Linked DNA regions of Homo sapiens. The protein of the gene in region 5 purifies or fractionates together with the protein of the main gene of each other region. This does not show direct contact. Each region holds a gene or a part of one and is shown on either strand. Other genes may lie near its edges.

Region 1 (3,500 bases), on a different chromosome or scaffold from region 5:
GACACCCCAGGGGGGCTGGGAAACGACCAGAATCCAGGTTCCCAGGTTGGTTGGAACAAGGACTTGTCCTTCTTTCCGTGTGCTGCTGATGCCCAGGGTCTGGGACAAACTCAAGGATTCTGGGATTCTCAGCATCAGGCCGGGAGGGTGAGAGAGGACCTCTCATTATCCCTGGAGTCATCTTTGTCTAAGGGGAGAACGGCCTCAAGAGGCGAGATTCCAGATTAGTACCCAGACCTGGGAGGAATTAATGGAATGCTTGTCCCTGGGCGCCTTAGAAACAGACCCCAGCTTATCTAAGGCTGCTCCGAGGCAGTGACCCAACTAGGGCTCAGGAAGTCAGAAGATAGACCAGCTAATAGTGATCACCTCTTGACCTTTGTGTCACGTCTTTTGCTTTTTAAAACCCTTTTGTGAACGTTATGGCCTTTGATCTGACGGCATCCTAGTTGTGAAGGGAACAGGGCAGGTATAATGTTCGTTTACCAATACAGAAATCGAGACCCAGAGATCACAAATTCTGGAGAGGCTCTGGGCTCTCCAGAGTCACTCAGCTGGAACTGACAGGGCTGGAATTAGATCCCTGGCCAGGCCAAGGGTGCATTCCTCTGAGTTTTTTCAGATCTGCTAGGAAGTGTACAGTCCGATACACCCTCCTATTTTGTTAGCTGTGGTCTACACAGCCTAGTATACATAGACCTTTCAGCAGGTCGGGTCAGGCATAGGAAGGCCTGGTCCTTCTACACAGCACTTGTTGAGGAAGGCCATCCAGGTACCTGAGGGGTTGACTGGTTCTGCCTGAACCAAGATAAGAGGTAGGGAGCAGCGATGGCTGGGAATTGCAGTGTCCAGACATTCTCACAGTGGGGATCACCTTCAAGAAGGATGGCATTCCTTCTTGAAGTGGCTTTCCCTCCCAGGAGGCTAGGAGGGCCTGGGGACGTGTCTGCCAGAATCACCTGGGTGGGAAGGGGGTCATGTTCAGCATGTGTGTGTGTGTGGTACATGTCTGTTCTGTGTGGTGAGGAGTGCCCCATCCCAGATGGGAGCCTCTGCTTGCAGGGAGACTGGCCACTTGACCTGGGCAGGTGAGTCTTCACTGGCCTTTCGATGTAAGCAAATTAAAGTGGCTCCATAGAGACCCACCCCATCTGCAATCACAGTGGTACATTCCTGCAGTTCTGCCCCTTCTCGGGGGGCCTTGTGGGTGGGTAAGCTGCTGCTGTCACATACAGAGCAAGGGTGGCCAGGAGTGCACCGCTAAGTGGTTTCTCATCTAGGTGGGCAGCTGTCTGACCAGAGGCTGCCGTGCTTACATCAGCAACAACAGCAGTCAACAGATTTGTCTAAAGTGTTTTTCGAGTGCTTTTCTGTATGTGGCTTAAAGGCCGAGGTGAGGCTGCCGGGCTGTCAAAGCCACTCAAGCAGACATCTGAGCAAATCTCTGACCAAGAACCCAGGCCATCGATCTGGTGGGATGGCCGCTCCACAGGAAGCTGAGGGTGGGGGAGTCACCTTTCCTCACTAGGAGCTGTTTGCTTCAGCAAAGCAGGATTTGAGGAGTTGGGGTCTGAAGGGGGAAAAGCTTGCTGAGGTGGAGGTGGCGATAAGCCTGGACTTGCCCTCACCTCACCCCACAGGCCAGGATTCGTCTTTGGGTTTCAGGGTGCATGTCTGTCTTAGCACTGACTGCGTGCCAAGCCCTGGATGTTGATCAGGCAGACACGGGCTCAGCCCTTGAGGCTCACAGTCCGGTGGGTTGCACAGGCAGCGGCAGCTGATCCCTCTTACCGGGTCTCCTTCTCGGGACTCCCTTCAGTCCACTTACCCCGTTTCTGCCCCCCAGGCCTTCTCTGGGCAGTGACTGTGAGGGCTGACAGGAAAGGCATGTGCAGCGTGCTTGTGAGGAGCTCAGCACAGAGGGTGGGGTGAGGGCATGTGTTGCTGAAGTCTGCATCCTGAGGTGCCTGTGGCAAACCACTCTTCCCTTCTGTCTCCTCAGTTCAGCCAGGCCCTGGCCATCCGGAGCTATACCAAGTTCGTGATGGGGGTAAGTTGTGCCAGCTGTCCTTCCTTCCCACTGCCTTGCGGACCCAAGCGGGGCCTAGGAGGCCAACCCTGGTAATGGCTGGAGGCAGGTCTTGGTACAGGGTGTTGGCGTGGTGTGTCCCTGCTCCCTGGGCCGGGGTGGGTCACTGGCACTCAGGCCTCTCTGGGTTTCAGATTGCAGTGAGCATGCTGACCTACCCCTTCCTGCTAGTTGGCGACCTCATGGCTGTGAACAACTGCGGGTAGGTGTGCGCCCCTCTACTTGCCACTCTACCTACCAAGGCTGTGGGGTGGGGGAGACCCACCGAGCCCTTCCAGCACTCTGCCCCCTCCCACCTGCTCTGTGTGTAGGCTTGGCCTGCCAGGCACCCTGGCTTCCGCTGGGATTTCCCAGCACCCCCTGGGGTAAACTGTGGTGTCAGGGGTCAGGGTGTGGATGGGTGGTAGCCTGAAGGCATTCCTTCTTGAAGTGGCTTTCCCGTGGCTGGCTGTCTTCCACTGTTCTCTGCATCTACACTCTCCTTCTCCGGCAGGCTGCAAGCTGGGCTCCCCCCTTACTCCCCAGTGTTCAAATCCTGGATTCACTGCTGGAAGTACCTGAGTGTGCAGGTGAGCAAGCACTGGACGGCGGAGGCCTTTCCTGTTCTTTGCTACATCCTTCAGCTGAAATGGTTTTGTGGATGCTTCATTGCATGCAAAGATAAGTGGTTTCATGGAATTCAATATTGTGAGGAGATACTTGGTATCTATAAGGCATTTAAGTTTTCATCTTACATAATTTCAGAAAGGATTTGAGGTGGCTAAGTGTGGGTTTATTTTAAGATTATACATCAGACAAGACCTTTTCTTCTTTGAGTCTTAAAGACTCTTAGGATAAGGATAAGAGAACTCTGGCCCAGGTGGCAGGTGGTAAAGCCCAAGAACTGCTTCTCCTTCAAGTAACATGGGCTGAAAATTCGAGGTCTGTAACCAGTTGAGCTGAGTTCCTGGGTTGTTAGGGCGGCTGGCATTGGAAACCGACTCCTCCCTCCTGCAGGACATTCCTGGGCCCAGGAGAGCCTGTGGGTGGGGCTGGGCCACGTGGGGAACTGGCAGCAGTACCAACCTTGGGTTCTCGTGTTCTGTACCGAAGCTACCTCTCCGTAGCTGGAGCTCTTGGGCCCAGCAGTCAGGGGTCCAGGCTTTGGCCGAGGGCAGAACCTTGCCTTTTCCTGGCCTTGATTTGCCTCGCAGTGAAATGGGGCAGTGGCCCGGAGGGAGCCAGAACTCTGAGTGGCCTCGAGGCTGAGAAGAGGACAGATGGGAGGGAAGCAGGGAGGAGAGCCGCAGTTCTTCCCAGTGGCCCTGGTCAGCGTGAGTGTGTCTCGTCCTCCCTATGAGCACTGAAAGAGTCCTAGACCACTTGGGCTCTGAAGCAAGAGGGGCAATGAGCCTCCTCTCTAGGGCTCTCC
Region 2 (3,500 bases), on a different chromosome or scaffold from region 5:
TTGACTGAGACATATCTCCGATACTTTTTGGTTCACATGACTCAACAGAAACAGAAGACCAGGGAGCCGTGTAGCTTTGTGCAGTGCCATAGCTCCTCTGAGCCTCAGTTTCCCCATTCCTGACATGACCTCTCAGTGTCAGAGGCGCTGGAACCAGAGCGACTCCATTTTGAGTGAGGGCTGGGAAATGAGGCTGGGGCCTGCTGGGCTGCATCCCCAGAAAGAGGCATTCCGAGCCTCTAGATGTTTAGTTGTAAAGTAGAGGTTCCTCTTCAAAGACTTTCCTACCGATCTAATTAGGAATAAATAGTAACTTCTCTTAGAAGCAAAATTTATTCAAAGACCTGTGCTAACATTATTAAATATCTGCTAGCAGTAATAAAGAAAGCAATGTACTACTTTAGGTTCTTAGCTCCCACAATTTAGCCTAAATATTTGCCCTGGCATGCTTATACTGGTCCAAGCGGGCATTAGGTCATAGCCTGTTCCTCTTCCTTATTTGAAGGTGTTTTTACCTTTCTCAGCATTCCACAAATTACTTCCTTCCTTTGTTCTCCTCTGCCTTTGCCTCTTTTAAAAAGTTGTACGTTGCTAGCCAATCGGGACAGATACAGAATGTGAGGTCCCATCCCAGTCAATGGAAACCAGAGACGGCAATAGGGTGGACGCGTCAGGTTATAAATGACCCTGTTTCCTTTGTTGGGTGAACTCTTGTGGCAAAGCTGATGGCAAGTGTGTCCTTTCTGCAGGAAGTAAAAATGTCCTTGCTGAGTAAATTAAATTTATGTTCAACTGCTGTTTCTTTACGGCACCGGGGAACAAGCATTTCAAACAATTTGGTGGCAATCCGTACAGGGCTACATTCTCCTGCGGGGGCGGTCTCTGTTCCTCTCTCATGAGGGAGCACGCTCCTCTGCCTCACTGCAGTGGCCTCAGGGATGAGAAATTGAGACCCACCTGGTGTGACGAATAAACCCGGACTCTCAGCAATGCAGAAAAAAAAAAAAAAAAGAAACTGGCCAGCAACCTAAGGTAAAGGATGCTCACATACCAGGGCTGCAACTCTGTGCACAGACCAAGGAAGGAGAAGCCACAGAAGCTGGTAAAGTACTTCCTTGGTGGTGAAATTCTGGAGGGCTGAATGTGTGTATGTGTGAATGATCACAGACAACCCTGCTTGCAGTGTGGTTTGTGTGGACGGTGACAAGTCCTCCTGCTGGACAGTGAGTGGGTCCCCTCCATGGTTCCGGTTCTGTAGTGACCTCATATGGCTTAGGGCAGGTCCTGCTGTGGGATTTATACCAGCACGCCTACACTAAGAGGGGCCTAATTCTCCCTTGGGGGGGCGACCAGAGAGGACAACACAAGTGGGAAGTATGCAAGGGACCTTTGGGGGGAAAGGAGGAAACAGGTCAACCTCCCAGGGCAGGCAAGGCAAGACACCCCTGGTTTGAGGGGTTAAGTCTTCCATTAATTTCAGGGGGTTGAACCTCACACAAACCTCCAGTAGTTAAAATATATATATATATATATATATATATATATATATATATATATATATTCAAAACTCCCTTTTCCCCTCTTCACAGGGAAAGAAAAAGGCTAAGCTTCACTCCCGCTGGTTGGTCCCCCAGGGGAAGGGGAAGGAGAGGGGGGAAAACAGCAGCATAGGTGGCTGGCAGAGACAAAGGAAAGACCAGCAGACAGGAAAAAGAACTAGGAGAGGAAGTCAGAAAAAAAGAAAGCAAAAACAGCAAGCACAGCGGCGCCAGGAAGAGAGCAGAGGAGGTGAGAGGGCATAATTCTTGCAATTTGTGGCAGGCATCTGCCAAGCCTCTGGGCTGCCGGGGCCGGACTGCAGCCATGCAAATCCCACCCAGCCCGAGAAACTAAGTGTAGGAAGAAAGGGGAAAAAAAGTAAAAAGGGGAATGGTGGGGGTGGATAGAGAAACTGACGGCAGTGCATGCCCAGGGGCTGGTGCCATTGCCCGGCCCTGCTGCTGCAGGAGCGGGAGAACTCAGGAGGGAAGAAGGAAGCAGGGGATGAAGAGAGTGAAGAGAGAGAAGAGACAGAAAGAGATTAAAATACAGAGGGAAAGAATAAGAGAGAAACTGGAAGAGACAGAAATCAAAGGAAGACATAGAGGGTGAAACTGAGAAAAAGAAATAGCGTAAAAGGCAGGCAGAAAGTTAAGACATGTTGAAGATTGTGAAAGTTGTAAGAAAAGCTATAAAAGGGAATTTATGCAAGAAATAGTGTATAATTTAAAAGTAATTAGGCCTCCTGAATGTAAAATTATTTAAAAAAAAACAGTTTATATACAAGGTATGTCAGAAAAATAAAATAATACTTTTAATAACAGGATTATAAGGAGACATAATATGGATTTTTACCTACATTAAAAGGTTAAAAAATATATTTTGTTTTAAAGGTTTAAGCAAGTTTTAAAATGTTAATTGTAAAGGAAATTCTGTGTGTAAACATATTGGCTAAAGCTAAAGGGGTATCATGCAGTTTTTCTGTGAACTGGATGTTAAAAGCACAATAGATTTTTCTTAAAGCACTAACCCGCTCTTTAACAAAAATTATAAAAGCTTAAAAAGAGTCTATAAAAATCTTACCCTATAGTCAGACATTAAAATTGAATAAATAATGTCTACAAGATTTTATTAAGTTTGGCCGGGCACGGTGGCTCACGCCTGTAATCCCAGCACTTTGGAAGGCTGAGGCGGGCGGATCACGAGGTCAGGAGATCGAGACTATCCTGGCTAACACGGTGAAACCCCATCTCCACTAAAAAATACAAAAAATTAGCTGGGCATGGTGGCGGGCGCCTGTAGTCCCAGCTACTCAGGAGGCTGAGGCAGGAGAATGGCGTGAACCCGGGAGGCGGAGCTTGCGGTGAGCTGAGATTGCGCCACTGCACTCCAGCCTGGGCGACAGAGCAAGACTCTGTCTCAAAAAAAAAAAAAAAAGATTTTATTAAGTTTAACATTAATAGCACATTAGTATAAAGGTAAAATTTAACTTATCTGGTATAAAATCATACAAAAAGCACTGTCAAATATAAAATGGTGTTTAGCTTTCTTAAGGCCTGAAGGTGGCCAGGTAAGTCACAAGGCCCCTCATGTCCAAGGCCACAGTGCACAGGGGCAGTGAAGGCCCCAAGAAGGCCAAGAGCTTAAGAGGAGGCAGGGCCGCAGTGTCCCCTGGGCGGCGCTGAGCAGGAATGGAGCGGGAGGCATCACCATGGGGCCTCAAGCCCCAGGATATGCAGCAAAAATGATATACTTAATTTATCTTCCAGTTTCCCTTCCCTCAGAACTAAAAGACTTTTAGTTCTAGGTACCACCCCTAGAATTTCCAGTACACCAGCACCAGCCTGAAAACCACGTCCTCATCAAAAGACAGAAAGAAAAAACTTGAGCCAGCCTGGGAAGAACCCTATTTTATGCTGTTAACCACTGAGACTGCCATCCGCAGAGCCAAGAAAAAAACG
Region 3 (3,500 bases), on a different chromosome or scaffold from region 5:
CCTGACCTCAGGTGATCCACCCGCCTCGGCCTCCCAAAGTGCTGGGATTACAGGCATGAGCCACTGCGCCCGGCCACAGAATTTAATGATTTTTAAGAGTGTAATGGGTTCCTGAGATTAAAAAGTTTGACAACTTTTGTTCTATTGAGTTGTATCTTTCTTTTTCATATTGATTCATGGGAATTCTGGGGTTTTTTTTGTTTTGTTTTTTGTTTTTTGAGATACAATCTTGTTGTGTCGCCCAGGCTGGAGCACAGGGGCACAATCTCAGCTCACTGCAACCTCTGTCTCCCTGGTTCAAGCGATTCTCCTGCCTCAGCCTCCAGAGTAGCTGGGATTACAGGCACGCGCTACCACGCCCAGCTAATTTTGTATTTTTAGTAGAGACAGGGTTTCACCATGTTGGCCAGGCTGGTCTTGAACTCCTGACCTCGTGATCTGCCCACCTTGGCCTCCCAAAGTGCTGGGATTACAGGTGTGAGCCACCACGCCTGGCCGAATTCTTTATATATTCTAAATGCTAGTCCTTTGCTATTAAATATATATAGCAATGTCTTCTCCCTGTGACTAGTCTTTTCACATCTTTACCACTTTTTTTGTTCTTCATTTCTTTCTGCTTTTCAGACTTTCCATCTGAGATCACTTTCCTTCCATCTGAAATACATTATTTAGAATTTCCTTCAATAAGATGTGCTGACAGAAAACTCTCTTTTGATTGAAAATGTCTTTAATTAGCCCTCATTCTGACATATATTTTCACTGGGTTTAGAATCCTAGGTAGGCAGTTATTGTCCTTCATCAACATTCAAGATAGCACTCTACTGGCTTCCACTGTTGTTGAGAAGTCAACTGTCAATCTAACTATTGTATCTTTGAAGGTATTCTAATGTTTCTCTAGCTATCTTTATGATTTTTCTCTTTGTCTCTGGTCTGAAGTTTGTCTTTGATGTATCTAGATTAGAGATTTTATTTATCCTGCTTGGGATTTGTTAGGCTTCTTGAAACTGCAGGCTAGTGTTTTTAATCAGTTCTAGAATATTATCACTCATTATTTCTTCAAATATCACCTCTGTTCTATGTTTGCCCTATTCTCACTCTATAACTCCAGTTAAAACTACGTTAGATCTTTTCTCTCCATTCTCCATTTTTCATAATCTTTCTTCCGTATTTAACCTCTTAACCCCCTATGCTACATGCTGGATAATATATTCTAACCAATTTTTTAGTTAAACCACCCATCCACTAAGTTTTTAAATTTCTATATTATATCTTTCCATTTTAGAAATTCTTTTGACACTTTTTCAAATCTTTGTGTAGTTTCCTGCAGAGGTTTTCAGCCTTTTATGTCTTTAAACACAATAAGTATAGTTGTCTTATAATTCTAATATAAAAAGTCTTTGTAGGTATATTTCACTTCATTGTTGTTTCTACTAATTCTTGTTCAGAGTAATTTGTTTCTTTGCACACATGGTTATTTTTAGTGACTGGTACTTACTGCCCTAGAAAAATTATTTGAGAGTATTATTTCAGGGCTAGGATAAAGGTGTCTTTCTACAGAAGGAATTTGTGTTTGCTTCTATCCCACACATAGGTGGCTCTCCCAGTCCAGGACCACTGAACCATTCAGGTAGGATGAATTTGAGCAGAAAATCTGCCTGAAGAAGGTTACTTTGTGGTAACCTTGTCTAGATTTCTCCTCCCTCCTGCCCTCCTCCTCCATCTGCTCAGTTCAGTGCTAATGCAATCTTTCTGTAATCTGCCGGGGGATAGAAGAGCTTACTTTTGACTTAATGTTCTAAGGATATAGTCTCTTAGGGCCCAGTTTAATTTGAGTTGTACCTTCTTTTATATTCTCTCTCTTGCATGGACCTTTGGCTTTGACTTTTATCCTCCCCATGCCATGAGGATATCAAAACTGAAGTTCAAGTTTGCCTTCAGTAAAGACATTCAATGCAAAAGCAGTTTCAGTATTCTGCTGACCTCTCAGGCTTTACCTTAATATTTTCATAATCTTTGATACTTTTGAGAAGTTGGATTTTTAAAATCCAGTATTTGAAAATCCTTTTCAAAAACAGAGGGCTAGTCCAAATAAACTAGCCTGTTATATTCCAGGAAACAGATTCATTATTTTTATTTTCAAGTTTTTAACGTTAAAACCAATATATCAAAATGAAAAAGAAAATTAGACATAGTTCTTCCTCCTATATCTCTTAACCTTCATTCAGATTCCTTTCTAGGCTTTGATCACATGCATATATGTTTTTTACATAGGTTACACCAACCTGCCATTTTCACAGCAGCTAACTTACATGTTTATTGGTCAAAGAGAAAAAGAAAAAAACCCACAAACTTGGAAAAGAACATTCTGATATTGCAAAGGTCTTCTTTTGGGAATCAACTTACAGAAAGACGAGATCCAGCTCTTGCTCTGGCAATACTCTCCTTTTCCTTTTCAGATACCCTTCTCTGCACAGCCTGGAAATTGTTTAAGGCTGCAGAGAAGTCATTCATGAGGCGTTCCTTCTGAAGTCTCTGCTGGCGCTAAGGAAATCAAGCAAGAACTTGAGATTTCATATTAACCCAGAATCATTTGGTTTTAATTTCCCTTAAAAGTAAAATTATACCCCTTAAAGATTTCCAACTAGGAAAATTATTATGAAATAGTCTCTTCTTTAAATTAATAAATTTGCTCTTTGCTAGCTCAAGTCCCTGGTTAATACTATAGACCAAGTCAGAATTTTTCTTCTTTCATTCTGACAAACCTGGAACTGGGTTGCATTTAACTTCTTCTTCTTTTTTTTTTTTTCTTTTTATTGAGACGGAGTCTTGCTCTGTCGCCCAGGCTGGAGCGCAGTGGCATGATCTCAGCTCACTGCCAACCTCTGCCGCCCGTGTTCAAGCGATTCTTGTGCCTCAGCCTCCTGAGGAGCTGGGATTACAGGCACCCACCACCATACCTGGCTAATTTTTTATTGTATTTTTAGTACAGATGGGGTTTCGCCATGTTGGCCGGGCTATTGTAGAACTCCTCACCTCAGGTGATCTGCCCGCCTCGGCCTCCCAAAGTGCTGGGATTACAGGCGTGAGTCACTGTGCCCAGCCTGTATTTAACTTCTAAAGTAATCTCCAAAGAACTGCAATTCAGAATTTTGGTGCCCTGGAGAATATAAAAGAGAATAAATACCTCTGGACTCCAGTTGAATCCAAACAGAGATGGGTTTTAGCTAAAATGTTAAAACCCTATTCATCTATATTGAATTCACAGCTTCCCTGTAAACTATAGAAGCATTTCACAGGCTTTTAGTGGTTTAAAATCTTTGAGACTTGGTAAGTACTTCATTTATCTACAGACTACCTCTACTAAGCTTGTTACTTCTATGTCTCAAAAAACATATGCTGAGGTTGAGCACAGTGGCTTATGCCTATAGTCCTAGTATTTTGGGAGGCTGAGGCAGGAGGATCACTTGAGCCTAGGAGTTCAAGACCAGCCTGAGCAACAT
Region 4 (3,500 bases), on a different chromosome or scaffold from region 5:
TTTTTTTGGACACCAATGAATGAATTCGGATGTGAATATGTTTACTTCATTTAGCGGTTGCTGTAAAAGCTGATTTTTGGGTGACAGGTTTGAGATTGTTATGAATAAAATGAGTCATGAATGAACCACTTGTTTGTGATTTTCTTGCTGAAGTGATGAACTTGCATATTAATGTGATATAGCATGAGTAACCAGATTGTTCTTTTGGTGGTGCAGGATGAGATATATGCTGGCAATGAGAGGCAGCTTAAGATCTAATGAATAGAATTTGAGACCTATAATCTGAACATAGGGGTTTACTAGCTGGCTTGGGTCTGCCTACTGGTCTGATTTGTATACAGAAGAATTGAATTTATTCAACTATTTTCATTATACGTATACATATATTTATAGTGCAGTGGTGATGATAATAATGGTTAACATTTATAGAGTGCCTGTTATGTGTAGGTACTATTCTGGGTGCTTTTATATGAATAATCTCATTTAGTCCTCATACAACCCCAAAGAGGTAGGTACTCTTATGATTTCCATTTTACAGAAGAGGAAATCAAGATTTAGAGAGTTTGAGTAACTCACTCAAGGATAATTTAATTTAATATAAAAACAGTGGAGCTAAGATTCAACTAGAGGTGTTGATGACCATAACCCATGCTCTAGAACCTCTGTGCCATATTGCATCCTCCATGTTGAGGTTTACCATTTCCTCTGATAAATACTTTTAACTTCTGTCTTGCTCCCTATATAAATGTTACCTATATTAATAAGAAGCTGGCCAGGCACAGTACTCATGCTTATAACCCCAGTATTTGGGGAGGCCAAGGCGGGAGGATTGCTTGAGCCCAGGAGTTTGAGACCAGTCTGGGCAACGTAGTGAGATCTTGTCTCTACAGAAAAACCAAAAAATAATTAGCCAGGTATGGTGGAGCATGCCTGTAGTGCCAACTACTTGGGAGGCTGAGGTAGGAGGATCACTTGAGTCCAGGAGGTCAAAGCTGTAAGTGAGCCATGATTGTGCCACTGCACTCCGGCATGGCTGATAGAGCAAGACTCTGTCTCAAATAATAATAATAAACAAGAAGCTACTATGTTAATGATTTTATTAATATTTATTTACATATGTTTACCTTGCCTCATTTCACAGAAGATTTGAGGTGACCCCTTAGGCAGAAGCAACATTTATTAAAAGATAAGTATTTTTCTTTGCTATATTAGACATTCTTGAAGAGAGTTTTAAAATGTAATTGGATTGTTTATTTAAGTATGTTTTTAGAGTGCATATAACTCATTTATAGAGGTGTTAAGTGAAAACTGTACTAGTTGCTAATACGCAGATGTTTTAAAATGACACGCTTGTTAGAAATATTAGTTTTTCAATGCTAATTATATAGGCAGAAGAGTCCACATTATTTTATTCTAGTCTGAGTGGTAAATAGACTCTCAATTCTGCACAAATAGAAAAAGTTTTTTGATTAATGGGGACGAAATAAAATATTTTTAAAAAGTGATTATGCTGATATTTTTCAAGAAATTGCTTCTAAGTATTATAGTTATTAGATAAATGGTGCTTACAATTAAAATGTCATAATTATTGAGAACCATACTTCATAGTTCCCAAGGTCTATAAATAAAGTGTCAAAACATGAACTTTTCTTCATGCAACAATGAATTGGTAGAACTTGAAATCACAAAAATATTTTTGCTGAATTAACATTATATAATATACTTTTAGGTTATCACAAATTCACAGTTGGTGGTACTTAATTACTACCATCAAATGAATTCCTTTTTTATTAGTAATGTCTGAGAGCAATATAACTAAGATAACTAGACTGGATAGGATATCTCTGTTTTGGAATTTACTTATGATTAACAGTTATCCAAAAATGCACTTGATTTAACTTCTTTAAGAATGAAGTTGGGCAGTCACCCAGAACCTTGGAGGAATGGAAACTTAATGTTTAGCTGGATTAGAGGGTAGGCTATTGGGTTCTCTATCAATGGAGTATACATTTAGAGTGTTAGGTATTCTTCTTAGGTAGTACCTTTTGCTATGGCTAGTAAGTTAAATTATGAAGTTTTATTTATTATTGTCATTTATTTTAGAGGGACTTCAAGTATCTAGAAAGAAATAGATTATTTTTTTCCTCTGCTACCAGAGCCAAGTCAAGAGAGTCCCAAGCTCATATGCTATATAGAATGATCCAATTTAATTTTCTGCATGGCCAAAGTTTTGCAATTTATCCTAGTCCAAGTTTGCATTGCAGTTTCTCACACTCTCTGCATTGATTTAAAAATTCTTATGGATTATGTCATACTAAATACATTTTATAAAGTAGACGGAAAAAAGGGGCCAACATTTGCTTAGCCATTATGGGGTAGCAGACATGGATTCTGCTAGATACTTTTCATACCTTCTATTCCTTACCTGTTTCCATATCCCCATGTCAATAGGGGAGAAAATTCAGGGTTGGAGAGACAAGTCATTCACCCAGGATCGTATAGCTAGCAAGCAGCCAAGCTGGGATTCAGTATGACTCCTCCTGGAACTCTTGAGAAATATGGACACATAAAACCAATGAACATGTATTTATTGAGTTCTAAGTTTACTGGGTAAGAATATACAAGAAAATATGAATACATAGAAGCTTATGTATGTATAAAAAGAGAACTGACAGGATAAAGTATGAGACAACTTTCAAATGCACATGTAAAATGAAGGTAGTCAGATATAATGCAAACTAATCAGGATAAAAAATTATAGTATGTCAATTTATTTTTACAAAAATCCCTGAAAAACTACAGTTCTGAAATTGAACTGAATATAAGTGGAAAGTAGACAATATATGCATTTCCAGTGTCATCTGGCAGCCCATATCATTTTAGCTCAAGCCTGCATGTACTGAAGTATCTATGTCAAAGCAGGAAGGTGGTGATCTGTGTCTCAGTTTCTGAGTTGACAACAAGGCATTGAATTTAGACTGTGACTTTATCACAAAGAGATACTGTATATTGGAGAGGGCCCTAGAGAAGAGCAGCAAGGAAAAAAAAAGAGATTGGAGAGATTAAAAATATAACTGGATGCAGTGAAGGTTAATTGAGAGTGGGATGGATCAGATCAAGTATTTTATAAGGACTTCCAAGGCACTAATACTTAAGGGAGGTGAATTCTATTTTCCTTTTAAAGAATAAGTCATTTAGTTAAAGGAGTAGAATAAGTCAAAGACACAAATGTCAGGGAAAATGTCCTAAAGGCAAACCTGAAAATGGAATGAATTGTTTAGAATGGGAGGAGGGTAAAGGAGTTGACACTAAATGATTTGCATTTCATGAATTAAAAATCATTTCCAACAAATTAGAGGGTTCATTAATACCATATTAATTACTCTCTCTCTCTCTCTCTGTGTGTGTGTGTGTGTGTGTGTGTGTGTGTGTGTGATCATAGGTAGCTTAGCTTTTCTTCCTTTAATAGTAGCAAGACTGGCATTTGATGACATTATTAT
Region 5 (3,500 bases):
ACTTGGAGGCTGCAGTGAGCTATGATGGTGCTACTGCACTCCAGCTTGGGTGACAGACCAAGACCCTGTCTCAAAAAAAAAAAAAAAAAAAGAAAAGAAAAAGAAAATGAGGAGGGATTAGAGTGGGAGAAATGGGTCCATTAATAGCTCTTTTGTTTCAGAGTTGTAAAATCCTATTGTAGTACACTTCATTCACTCTAGGTTTTCCTGTTAGTGTATTAGAATTTCTTTCTATTGAAAATTACTGGCCGGGCACGGTGGCTCATGCTTGTAATCATCACTTTGGGAGGCTGAGGTGGGTGGATTACTTGAGGTCGGGAGTTTGAGACCAGCCTGGCCAGCATGGTGAAACTCTGTCTTTACTAAAAATACAAAAGCCGGGCATGGTGGTACACGCCTGTAGTCCCAGGTACTCAGGAGGCTAAGGCAGGAGAATCGCTTGAAACCAGTGCAGTGAGCTGAGATTGTGCCACTTGTTCAGACTGGGCGAAGGGCATACTGTGTTTCAAAAAATGAAAAAGAAAATTACTTGAAACAATAGGGAAATCAGCTGTTTTTTTTTCTTAATTAGAATTTGTGATGTCATTTTTAGTAACAATTTATTTTGTAGCTTAAAATTGGCCCTAACCAATTCTTTTTAAATATGCTCATAGTCCTATAAAATTTTTGTGCTTTAGAAAGATGAATATTCTTAGTATCTAGATTTTCCTGGAGACTTGTTTTCCTAGACTGGATCTTTTAACATGGTAGTTAACTAGGGTATAATAGGAGTATGTCTTATTTTTAAATTTTTCTGGCATTCTTTAGTTCAACAAACGTTTTAGTACCTCCTATGTGCTGAGTTCTTTGGATACAAGGGTGGTTAAACACAGACTTGTATTATTATTATTATTATTGTTAATTTATTTTTGGGACAGTCTTGCTCTGTCACCCAGGCTGGAGTGCAGTGGTGTGATCATGGTTCATTGCAGCGCTGACTGTGTATCTCCTCCAACTCTTAAATTATTCACGTCTCCTATCTGACTTCGCTTGGCACACCAATATCCTTGAGAAGCAATAATAGTTCTGCCAGTTGCTCTTCCTTGAGAGTTGTACCATTCTCTATATCTCAAAACATTCTTCACTTCAGACTATCTGTGATGTATTGCCCTTACAACCACCTGTATTGTGCATTTTTTTTAGTTCCATAGTCATTACTCATTAACACATCCCAAATAAAACTCAGCTTTCTTCTTTCTGTTCTCCCTCTCAGTAAATAACCTCATCTACACAGTTTTGTCCTTGACTGTTCTCCCCTTCACCTCTCACATCTAATCAGTCATGAAGTCTTGTCATTTTGATCTTCTAAATATCTTTCTAAGCCATCTGCCTTTCCTCATCCCCACTACCATTGCCTTAGTTCAAGCAACCATGAGTCTCTCCCTCTCTGGATTACTGCAGCTGTTCGTTCTTGGCCCTGCAGCCACTTTATTGGCTTAGAAAAGGCAAATTTCTAGTTGCGTTTGTCTGTCTTCAGGATAAATTTCAAACTCCTAAATTCTTTAGCATGGCTTATGCAGCCCTTTATGATCTGATCTGGTCTCTGTTTTTGTTTCTAAACTATTTAGACTCTACTCTCTGGTATTTGGGTTTCAATCATGCAGTGAACTACTGCTCTGTATAAAATATATCCTCTGCTAAGAACATATATCCTCTGCTTCCCTATACCCTCTACTAATTAAAATTGCCATTATTTAGATCTCAGTTTATATGTCGCTCTAAGTAAGTTTTCCTGATTCTCACTCTGCCTGAGCCTCCTAAATCTAGGTAAGATAGCATTTATTAGGGCTTGCTGTGGCAGCCTGTTGGTACAATTACATGTTGTAATTGTCTGTTTTCTTGTCATCCCATTAGATTGTAACTGCTGTGGAGGCAGTGACTGAATCTTACTTATTTACACCTAGTAGCTTGCTCTGTACCTGGCACATGGTAGGCGTTTACTGTATATTTATTGAAGAAGTAACTGAAAATGGTACCTCATTCAGGATTCTCTGCATTCCTCTATTACACTCTACTATATACATTGATTTACTGGCTTACATAATACTGCTAGTTTAGTCAGACACTTTTCCTTGTGTGTGTTTTTGCCACTGACACCTTTTATTTCCAGCATGTGGTTGGTGCTCATAAATGTGCTGAATGCATGAGTAAAGAAACTTCTAAATCAGATTAAGTGGAATGGAGAGTAGTTCAAAGAATTTGGGCAGGCTATTGCTTATGTTCTTTTCTGAAGGATTTAGTAGAAGTTATTTGCAGAGAGAAAGGATAAAAGGGTGTTCCAGGTAGATGGAACAGAATACACCTGAAAAAAGGTACAAAGCTTTTGGGTAACAGAGTTCACAATGGCCCAAGGCAGAAATGTTTTATGTGTTGGGGAGTATCAGGAAGTATAGCCTCACTGTAGAGGTAAAGGGTGAAGTCAGAAGATTTTTAAGCCCCTGTGTGGTATAACCAGATGGACATTTTGTAAAGGTTAGTTTGGGCAGTGGTTATACATTATGCACCTTAGGCAGATTATTGGAAGGTGACTAGATCAGAAGAAGAGAGATCAGAATGTTATTTTAGTGACTTAGGCTAGAAATGATAAGGGGCCAGTGTCAGAGGAGAAGGTTCGAGGGACTTAGGTTATAGGGTCTGGATGGTGAAAGAAGCATTTAGAATAAGTGGGTGGATGAGATATCTTTGACAGAATTGGGAATATAGAAGAAGAGCAGGTTTAGATAGAACACATGAGATTAAGATGCCTTATTGAAATGGAGATACCAAGTAGGTGCTTAGATATTTGGGTGTGGAGCCCATTAGGATGCTCAGTCTCGCATTTCCTGGGGATGCTTTCTGGAACCATATGCTCAAATTATCATCTGTATGCCAAATAGTTTTGAAAGAAACTGAACTTTTGTACCTTTTTTGGTTGTTATATTAGCCTGTAAGTTCACATAATTGCTAAAGTTAAGAATGCATGTTGTGTATGATAGGTGATGGGTTTCCAAGTTTGGAGAATGATTTAGGGCAATAATTTTACCCTGAACTTACTGCTACATTTAAAATATTTGGGTTGAATTTTTCCTTTATCTTCCATTTTTGGAAATAAATAAAAATTATAATAATCATAATATAAGTAAAAATTCAGTATTAAGTGTAGGGACAGTATAAAAAATTACTACTGTATTGTGAAACTTCCTTATTTTTTCCAGCTCTTTGTGTCAGGAAGGATGTTCTTGAGTTGGATTGTGCAAAAGTTCATTCTGTCTAAAAGTTGAATTTATCTGTTTTTCTGCCTCATTTTTGCTTTTTAATTAAAACTTTTGCTAAATTAGAGGTGAGAAAATTTATTCTAAAATGTTTGCTGTGGTCACCAGAACTCTTTTAATAAGGTATATCTGACATAGCTCCTTTGCTAGAGGAGAAAAACAAAATACAGTTTCTGTTGCTTTCAGCAGGCCATCATTGGAAGTTTTATA
Region 6 (3,500 bases), on a different chromosome or scaffold from region 5:
AGGTCTCTCTATTTTGCCGTAGAACTGGAACTCCTGGGCTTCAGCAAACTTCCTGTTTCAGCCTTCTCAGTAGTTAGGAGTATAGGCATGTAGCACCACACCCAGCTCACCTTCCGTATTCTACTATCTCCATTTCAATTTGAGAATGACTACTTTGGATAAATCTGTAGGAATATTTATCAGTACTTCATTTACATGCCTGCCACTGTGTTTGTTCTTCTCTAAAAGCTTATCACAGAAAGGATGATTCATGAAATAAATTTCTCATTTCTTCTTAAGCTGCATTCCTCATCTTTCTTCCTTTTGGTAGGTCTTTCTAAAGGAGCAGGAACGACAGCACTTACAAGATCTGCTTCACCAAGAGGTGCTCCGCAGAATCATATTGTTGCAGCGATGGTTCAGGGTCTTGCTGTGTAGGCAGCATTTCCTCCATCTGAGACAAGCATCTGTTATTATCCAGGTGAGAAGCAAAGGATTCTTTGCATGAGATTGACTAGTTTATTTGGCCTTTGTTTAGTAACCAGAACCTTTTTACTGTAAAACATTTTCAGTAATAATGTGAACTTCAGAAATGAGAATATGTCGTACCCAATTTTGAAGTGCTCATAACACCCAACAGATTATCTGGCATATAATAGACTATTAATAAATATTGATTCCATTGAATTTAAATTAAATTGAATTTGTAGTTATAATGTCTTGTGAGATCTGTGTAGGGGCTAAGGAGTTACCTAATATTTGTTGACATAGTTGTTTTTATTTAATAGTTTTTGGAGTGATGTTTGAGAGTTGTATATATACCGTTGGTTTTAGACACTCATTTTGGATGATAGGTACCTTATTTTACATTTTATTTGTTTTATTAACTCCCTCATTGATTTATATCATTTCCATAAGATCTTTTCCATTTGTGCAAGAAAATCTTTAGTATCTTCATCTTTGGAATGTGTGTCAGGATTACCTTAAACCCATTAGTGTTATTTAGGAAAATTGTAACAAAAGAATATAATATGTTAAAGTTACTAATAATTTGAAGGACATGAAATCATCCAAAAATTTTAAATTAGGTTCTGTAATTAACTTCTTCAAGGTTATATTATTTAAAATAGCTGTTTTAGCCAAACATATCTGGAAGAGAAAACTTTTTTCTATTTATCTTTTTCAGGTACACTTTCTGCTTTTGTAGAAAACTAGTTTTTTTATTTTTATTTTTTTGAGACAGAGTCTCACTCTGTCACCCAGGCTGGAGTGCAGTGGCGTGAATTCTGCTCACTGCAAGCTCCAGCTCCCAGGTTCACGCCATTCTCCTGCCTCAGCCTCCTGAGTAGCTGGGACTATAGGCACCCACCACCACGCCCAGCTAATTTTTTTTGTATTTTTAGTAGAGACGGGGTTTCACCATGTTAGCCAGGTTGGTCTCTATCTCCTGACCTCATGATCTGCCTGCCTTAGCCTCCAAAAGTGCTGGGATTACAGGCATGAGCCACCGCACCTGGCCAGAAAACTTATTTTTAATCACCAAGAATTTAGCTGCATAGCCACTTAACCTGTAATTATGACATAAGAAATTTATTCTCTTTTTTTCCTGTGAAAATGCAGTGTAAGATATGACAACCAGTTTCTGTTATTTTGTCTTCCCCATAGAGATTCTGGAGGAATTACCTAAATCAGAAGCAAGTCAGAGATGCAGCTGTGCAGAAGGATGCTTTTGTTATGGCTAGTGCAGCTGCTCTTCTCCAAGCTTCCTGGCGTGCTCACTTAGAGAGGCAGCGGTACTTGGAGTTACGGGCTGCAGCCATCGTTATCCAGCAGAAATGGAGAGATTACTATAGGCGCAGGCACATGGCTGCTATTTGCATACAAGCAAGATGGAAAGCCTACAGGGAAAGTAAAAGGTACCAAGAACAAAGGAAAAAAATTATCCTTTTGCAATCAACATGTAGAGGATTCAGAGCAAGACAAAGGTAATCTCTATTACTATAATAATTGCTTTTTTTCTTCTTCCCAAGTACTTTGTTTATACCTCTGCATTAACACTTGTCTAATTTGTATTAGAATTGGTTGTATACAATTTGTCTTTTCCACTATACTGTGATACCGATTTTAACCCACATTGTATTGTCTATAATGGAAGTTAAATAAGGTTTTATTGAATTAAATTGGATTGAAAATCTACATGGTCTGTGATCATAACTGCTAAGAATTAACTTCTACATTAGGCTGAATCTTATAAAATTGGCAATATTCAACTGTTGTTACTTTCAGAAACTTTAATTTCACACTTAAATTAAAATTTCACTTTAATTTCACACTTAAAATTTCACTTTAATTTGAGGTTTACTTTAAAATAAAGGCATTATTAAAATGAGAGCTTTACTTCTGAATTAGTTTACATTTTGACTGAAATGCCTAGGTAGAAGTAATACACTTAATGAAATATCATCTGACTCATGGAAATAGGAAAATTATGAAATGTGCATTCAAGTTAGTTTAAGAAGAACTTAGGTATTATAAAAAGATTTTACAACTCTGCATTTTTTCTTAAATTCTCAGGAAATATGTTATTTTCAGTGGTAACTAAGATATTTCTATAACCCATTTTGTCTGTTTTTATATAGATTTAAAGCTTTAAAAGAACAAAGGCTAAGAGAAACAAAGCCAGAAGTTGGATTGGTGAATATTAAGGGATATGGATCTCTGGAAATTCAGGGTTCAGACCCTTCAGGATGGGAGGATTGTTCTTTTGACAACAGAATAAAAGCCATAGAGGAATGTAAATCTGTAATAGAGAGTAATCGAATTAGCCGTGAAAGTTCAGTGGACTGCTTGAAGGAGTCACCAAACAAGCAGCAGGAGAGAGCCCAAAGCCAGAGTGGTGTGGACTTGCAGGAAGATGTGCTTGTAAGAGAGAGACCCAGATCCTTGGAGGATCTCCATCAGAAAAAAGTAGGCCGGGCTAAGAGAGAAAGTAGGAGAATGAGAGAACTAGAGCAAGCTATATTTAGCTTAGAATTGCTGAAAGTTCGTTCTCTTGGTGGTATTTCTCCTTCAGAGGATCGCAGATGGTCTACAGAATTGGTGCCTGAAGGCCTTCAGTCTCCACGGGGTACACCTGATAGTGAGAGCTCTCAAGGAAGCTTGGAACTTCTGAGCTATGAGGAAAGCCAAAAGAGCAAACTAGAGTCTGTCATTTCAGATGAAGGAGACTTGCAGTTTCCATCACCTAAGATATCCAGCAGTCCAAAATTTGATTCACGGGACAATGCCCTCAGTGCCTCAAATGAGACTAGCAGTGCAGAGCATTTGAAGGATGGAACTATGAAGGAAATGGTGGTCTGCAGTTCTGAGTCTATTACCTGTAAACCACAGCTGAAAGACTCCTTCATTTCAAATAGTCTACCTACTTTTTTTTATATCCCCCAACAAGACCCACTGAAAACAAATTCCCAACTAGACACAAGTATCCAAAGAAACAAACTATTGGAAAATGAAGACACAGC
Region 7 (3,500 bases), on a different chromosome or scaffold from region 5:
GCATGAAAACAGGATAAATTAAGTGTGTTCTGAGAGTGAACAGCAGAGGTTAGCCTCTCCGTAGTGCAGATAGACAAACTGAGCCTCAGAAAAGCAAAGCAACTTGCCCACAGCCCCACAGCTAGGTAGCAGCAAAGCTTCACTGACCTTTCCCTGTCTGGGACCTGCCAGGGAAGCCCTGGAAGTCCCCAACACAGAGAAGGCCAAGACCTATGTGGAGGGTGTCATGGGGAAGAGCTTGGGTTTGGGGGCCAGGATTCAAGTATACTCGGCTGAAGACCTTGACAGGGAATCCCAGGGGCTTCCCCAGGACTTTTCTCCATCTGGAATGGGGCATCCAGAACTGAAGTGCGCGCGCGCGCGCGTGTGTGTGTGTGTGTGTGTGTGTGTCTGTCTGACTGTCTGTCTGTGTAGGCAAGACCTGGTTTCCAATCCCAGTTTTGTCACTCCCCCTCTGAGACACTCTCTCTGGCTCTCTGAGCCTCTATTTCTTTTTTCTTTATTTGTTTTCTTTCTTTCTTTCTTTCTTTCTTTCTTTCTTTCTTTCTTTCTTTCTTTTCTTTTCTTTCTTTCTTTCCTTTCTTCTTTCTTTCTTTCTCTTTCTTTCTTTCTTTCCCTTCCTTCCTTCCTTCCTTCCTTTCTTTCTCTTTCTTTCTTTCTCTCTTTCTTTCTCTCTTTCTCTCTTTCTTTCTCTCTTTCTCTCTTTCTCTCTTTCTTTCTTTCTCTCTTAGATGGAGTTTTGCTCTTGTCACCCAGGCTGGAGTGCAATGGTGCGATCTCAGCTCACTGCAACCTCTGCCTCCTGGATTCAAGGGATTCTCCTACCTCAGCCTCCCAGGTAGCTGGGATTACAGGCACACACCACCACGCCTGGCTAATTTTTGTATTTTTAGTAGAGACGGGGTTTCACCATGTTAGCCAGGCTGGTCTCGTACTCCTGACATCAGGTGATCTGCCCGCCTTGGCCTCCCAAAGTGCTGGGATAACAGGCATGAGCCATAATCGTGCCTGGCCTCTGAGCCTCTATTTCTGCATCTGTAAAATGGAGACAATGGTGATCAGACCTGTTTCATAGGATTGTTGTAAAGGTTCAGGGAGATACTGTGTGGGGGCACCTAGTGAGCATGAGTGCTAGAACTTGAGAATGACCTTAAAGGAGGCTTTAAACCCAGAGGGTCCAAGGGGCAGCCCTCTGGCCACCCCTGCCTCAGACGCACGTCTAAAAATATTAAATTGGGATGGTATGGTGGTTCATGCCTGTAATCCCACCACTTTGGGAGGCTGAGGCGGGTGGATCACTTGAGGCCAAAAGTTCGACACCAGCCTGGCCAACAAGGCGAAAACCTGTACTAAAAATACAAAAAATTAGCTGGGCATGGTGGTGCACGCCTGTAGTCCCAGTTACTTGGGAGGCTGAGGCAGGAGAATTGCTTGAAACTGGGAGGCAGAGATCGCAGGTTGCAGTGAGCTGAGATCACGCCATTGCACTCCAGCCTGGGTGACGAGTGAAACTCCGTCTCAAAAAAATAATAATAATAAATAAAAATAAAAAGATTAAATTGGCCAAAAATCAGGAAATTCCAAATACAAATCCAGATTTCTGGCTTTATTGAAAATTATGCACTCATTAATTCAACTAATACATCTCTGCAAGCTCCTTCTATGAACCAGTTTTCTTGCTAGTGGCCCGGGCAGCAGTGGCAGGGCTGCCCTCCATAGCTCTCCACCTCACCACGTTCACACAGTCCCCTGGCATCCAAGTCCCTTCCTGGCCCTGTGACCATCTGTCCTCAACCCTTTCCTCACCCTTACCCCCAGCAACTGACGAACCACATCCGGGACACACTGCCGGGGCTGCGGAACAAGCTGCAGAGCCAGCTACTGTCCATTGAGAAGGAGGTGGAGGAATACAAGAACTTCCGCCCTGATGACCCAGCTCGCAAGACCAAGGCCCTGCTGCAGTGAGGCTCCCCCAGCTCCTATCACTGAATCCCCGCCCCCAGCCTCTCAGCGTGGGGCTCTCCCAGGGTTCCCTTTGCTGGGCTGCTCCTGCCCCCTCAGGCCACACCACTCTCCCACCAGGATGGTCCAGCAGTTCGCCGTAGACTTTGAGAAGCGCATTGAGGGCTCAGGAGATCAGATCGACACCTACGAACTGTCAGGGGGAGCCCGCATTAACCGAATCTTCCACGAGCGCTTCCCTTTCGAGCTGGTCAAGGTAGGTCAGGCAGCCCTGGGGACAGGATGGCTCAGGACTCCCCCCACCCTCACTCAGGACTCTCTCTGCGTGTGTTTTTGCTGGCCCCCACCCCACAGGCCCTGATGCCCAGCCCTAGGTGTGGGGTGGGCCCTGTCTTGACCTCCCAGGTAGTAGGACAGGCCCTGACCAGGCTTTTCTCTGCTTTTCTACACAGATGGAGTTTGATGAGAAGGAACTCCGAAGGGAGATCAGCTATGCTATCAAGAATATCCATGGCATTAGGCACGTATTGGGGCCTGGGAGGGTGGCTGAACCCCAGAAGTAGGGGGTCTGGGACAGAGGCACAGGGAGTGATGAAGTGGGCCTCCCTCAGGAAGGACTGAAAGCTCTGTTCCCCAGTCCTCTCGACCCCAACTTTCTGGCTCCCTGCATGACAGGCTCCAGCTTGGGGAGGTGGACCCGGGCCACCCCGCCTACTGCAACTTGCTGGGCCAACTGGGCACAGCCCAGGGCGCAGGTGGCCGGGGAAACACCCTCTGGGGCTGGGCCCATCCCCAGGGTGAGATAGCTCCCCCAGTGCCACCCAGGTAACCGGACAAAGATGTCCAAACCACTACGAGGGCCTGGGGTGGAGCATCTAAGTATGAGGCTGTGTCCTTTTATGACGGCCGGGGACTTTGCAATCCTCCACACCCTCCTGTATTCACAGTAGCCCAGAGTCAGTCCCATTCCACCCCACCGCCCTCCTTCTAGGCAACCCGTGGAGTAGGAAACAGGATTGGGAGGTGGAATCTGTTCCTTAAAAGCTTAGATCCCCTTCAGGGACCCAGATCTATGCTGTGTTCATCCAACAAATCCACTGGGCCGGAAAATTTAAAGCACCTACCCTATGCCAAGCAGTGAACAAGACCCAGTGTCCCCTTGCTCTCATGCAGGTTCATTTCCAAGATTTGGCATGGAATTTACTTCCTGATAACTGCACTGGCCAATTCACAGAAAAAAGATCTCTTTCCTAGTCTTAAAACAAAACACTCTATTCCTGGAAAGGCTCTTATGGAGAACCACGTTTGGCAATTTTCAAGCCATTTCTGGCCATAGAACTTCCTATATGCACAGACCCTTACGAGGAAGCAGGACTTACATATCAGATACTCAACCACCTTGTCTTGCCCCAAAGAGCCTCATTAGGGCCGGGCGCGGTGGCTCACGCCTGTAATCCCAGCACTTTGGAAGGCCGAGGCAGGCGGATCATGAGGTCAGGAGATCGAGACCATCCTGGCTAACACGGTGAAACCCTGTC

The links.
Region 1: the proteins of TBC1D15 (region 5) and MTCH1 purify together in Homo sapiens (co-immunoprecipitation; one large-scale study listed by IntAct). This does not show direct contact.
Region 2: the proteins of TBC1D15 (region 5) and THEM6 purify together in Homo sapiens (co-immunoprecipitation; 2 studies listed by BioGRID and IntAct, with this or other methods). This does not show direct contact.
Region 3: the proteins of TBC1D15 (region 5) and STX12 purify together in Homo sapiens (affinity purification with mass spectrometry; 4 studies listed by BioGRID and IntAct, with this or other methods). This does not show direct contact.
Region 4: the proteins of TBC1D15 (region 5) and DNM3 purify together in Homo sapiens (affinity purification with mass spectrometry; one large-scale study listed by BioGRID and IntAct). This does not show direct contact.
Region 6: the proteins of TBC1D15 (region 5) and MYO9A purify together in Homo sapiens (co-immunoprecipitation; 2 studies listed by BioGRID and IntAct, with this or other methods). This does not show direct contact.
Region 7: the proteins of TBC1D15 (region 5) and DNM1 purify together in Homo sapiens (affinity purification with mass spectrometry; 2 studies listed by BioGRID and IntAct, with this or other methods). This does not show direct contact.

The regions. Positions count from the first base shown.
Region 1 is NC_000006.12:36,969,197-36,972,696, reverse strand, and holds part of MTCH1 (mitochondrial carrier homolog 1), read left to right. Parts: coding exon 1-45; intron 46-2,002; coding exon 2,003-2,050; intron 2,051-2,223; coding exon 2,224-2,291; intron 2,292-2,582; coding exon 2,583-2,658; coding exon of another isoform or gene 2,659-2,844; exon of another isoform or gene 2,845-3,500.
Region 2 is NC_000008.11:142,730,223-142,733,722, reverse strand, and holds part of THEM6 (protein THEM6), read right to left. Parts: intron 1-3,500.
Region 3 is NC_000001.11:27,800,719-27,804,218, reverse strand, and holds part of STX12 (syntaxin-12), read right to left. Parts: intron 2,542-3,500; coding exon 2,404-2,541; intron 1-2,403. UniProt on the Homo sapiens protein: SNARE promoting fusion of transport vesicles with target membranes. Together with SNARE STX6, promotes movement of vesicles from endosomes to the cell membrane, and may therefore function in the endocytic recycling pathway.
Region 4 is NC_000001.11:171,844,498-171,847,997, forward strand, and holds part of DNM3 (dynamin-3), read left to right. Parts: intron 1-3,500. UniProt on the Homo sapiens protein: Microtubule-associated force-producing protein involved in producing microtubule bundles and able to bind and hydrolyze GTP. Most probably involved in vesicular trafficking processes, in particular endocytosis.
Region 5 is NC_000012.12:71,842,759-71,846,258, forward strand, and holds part of TBC1D15 (TBC1 domain family member 15), read left to right. Parts: intron 1-3,500. UniProt on the Homo sapiens protein: Acts as a GTPase activating protein for RAB7A. Does not act on RAB4, RAB5 or RAB6.
Region 6 is NC_000015.10:71,898,151-71,901,650, reverse strand, and holds part of MYO9A (unconventional myosin-IXa), read left to right. Parts: intron 1-310; coding exon 311-460; intron 461-1,644; coding exon 1,645-1,964; intron 1,965-2,618; coding exon 2,619-3,500. UniProt on the Homo sapiens protein: Myosins are actin-based motor molecules with ATPase activity. Unconventional myosins serve in intracellular movements. Regulates Rho by stimulating it's GTPase activity in neurons.
Region 7 is NC_000009.12:128,220,379-128,223,878, forward strand, and holds part of DNM1 (dynamin-1), read left to right. Parts: intron 1-1,818; coding exon 1,819-1,961; intron 1,962-2,082; coding exon 2,083-2,218; intron 2,219-2,414; coding exon 2,415-2,482; intron 2,483-3,500. UniProt on the Homo sapiens protein: Catalyzes the hydrolysis of GTP and utilizes this energy to mediate vesicle scission and participates in many forms of endocytosis, such as clathrin-mediated endocytosis or synaptic vesicle endocytosis as well as rapid endocytosis (RE).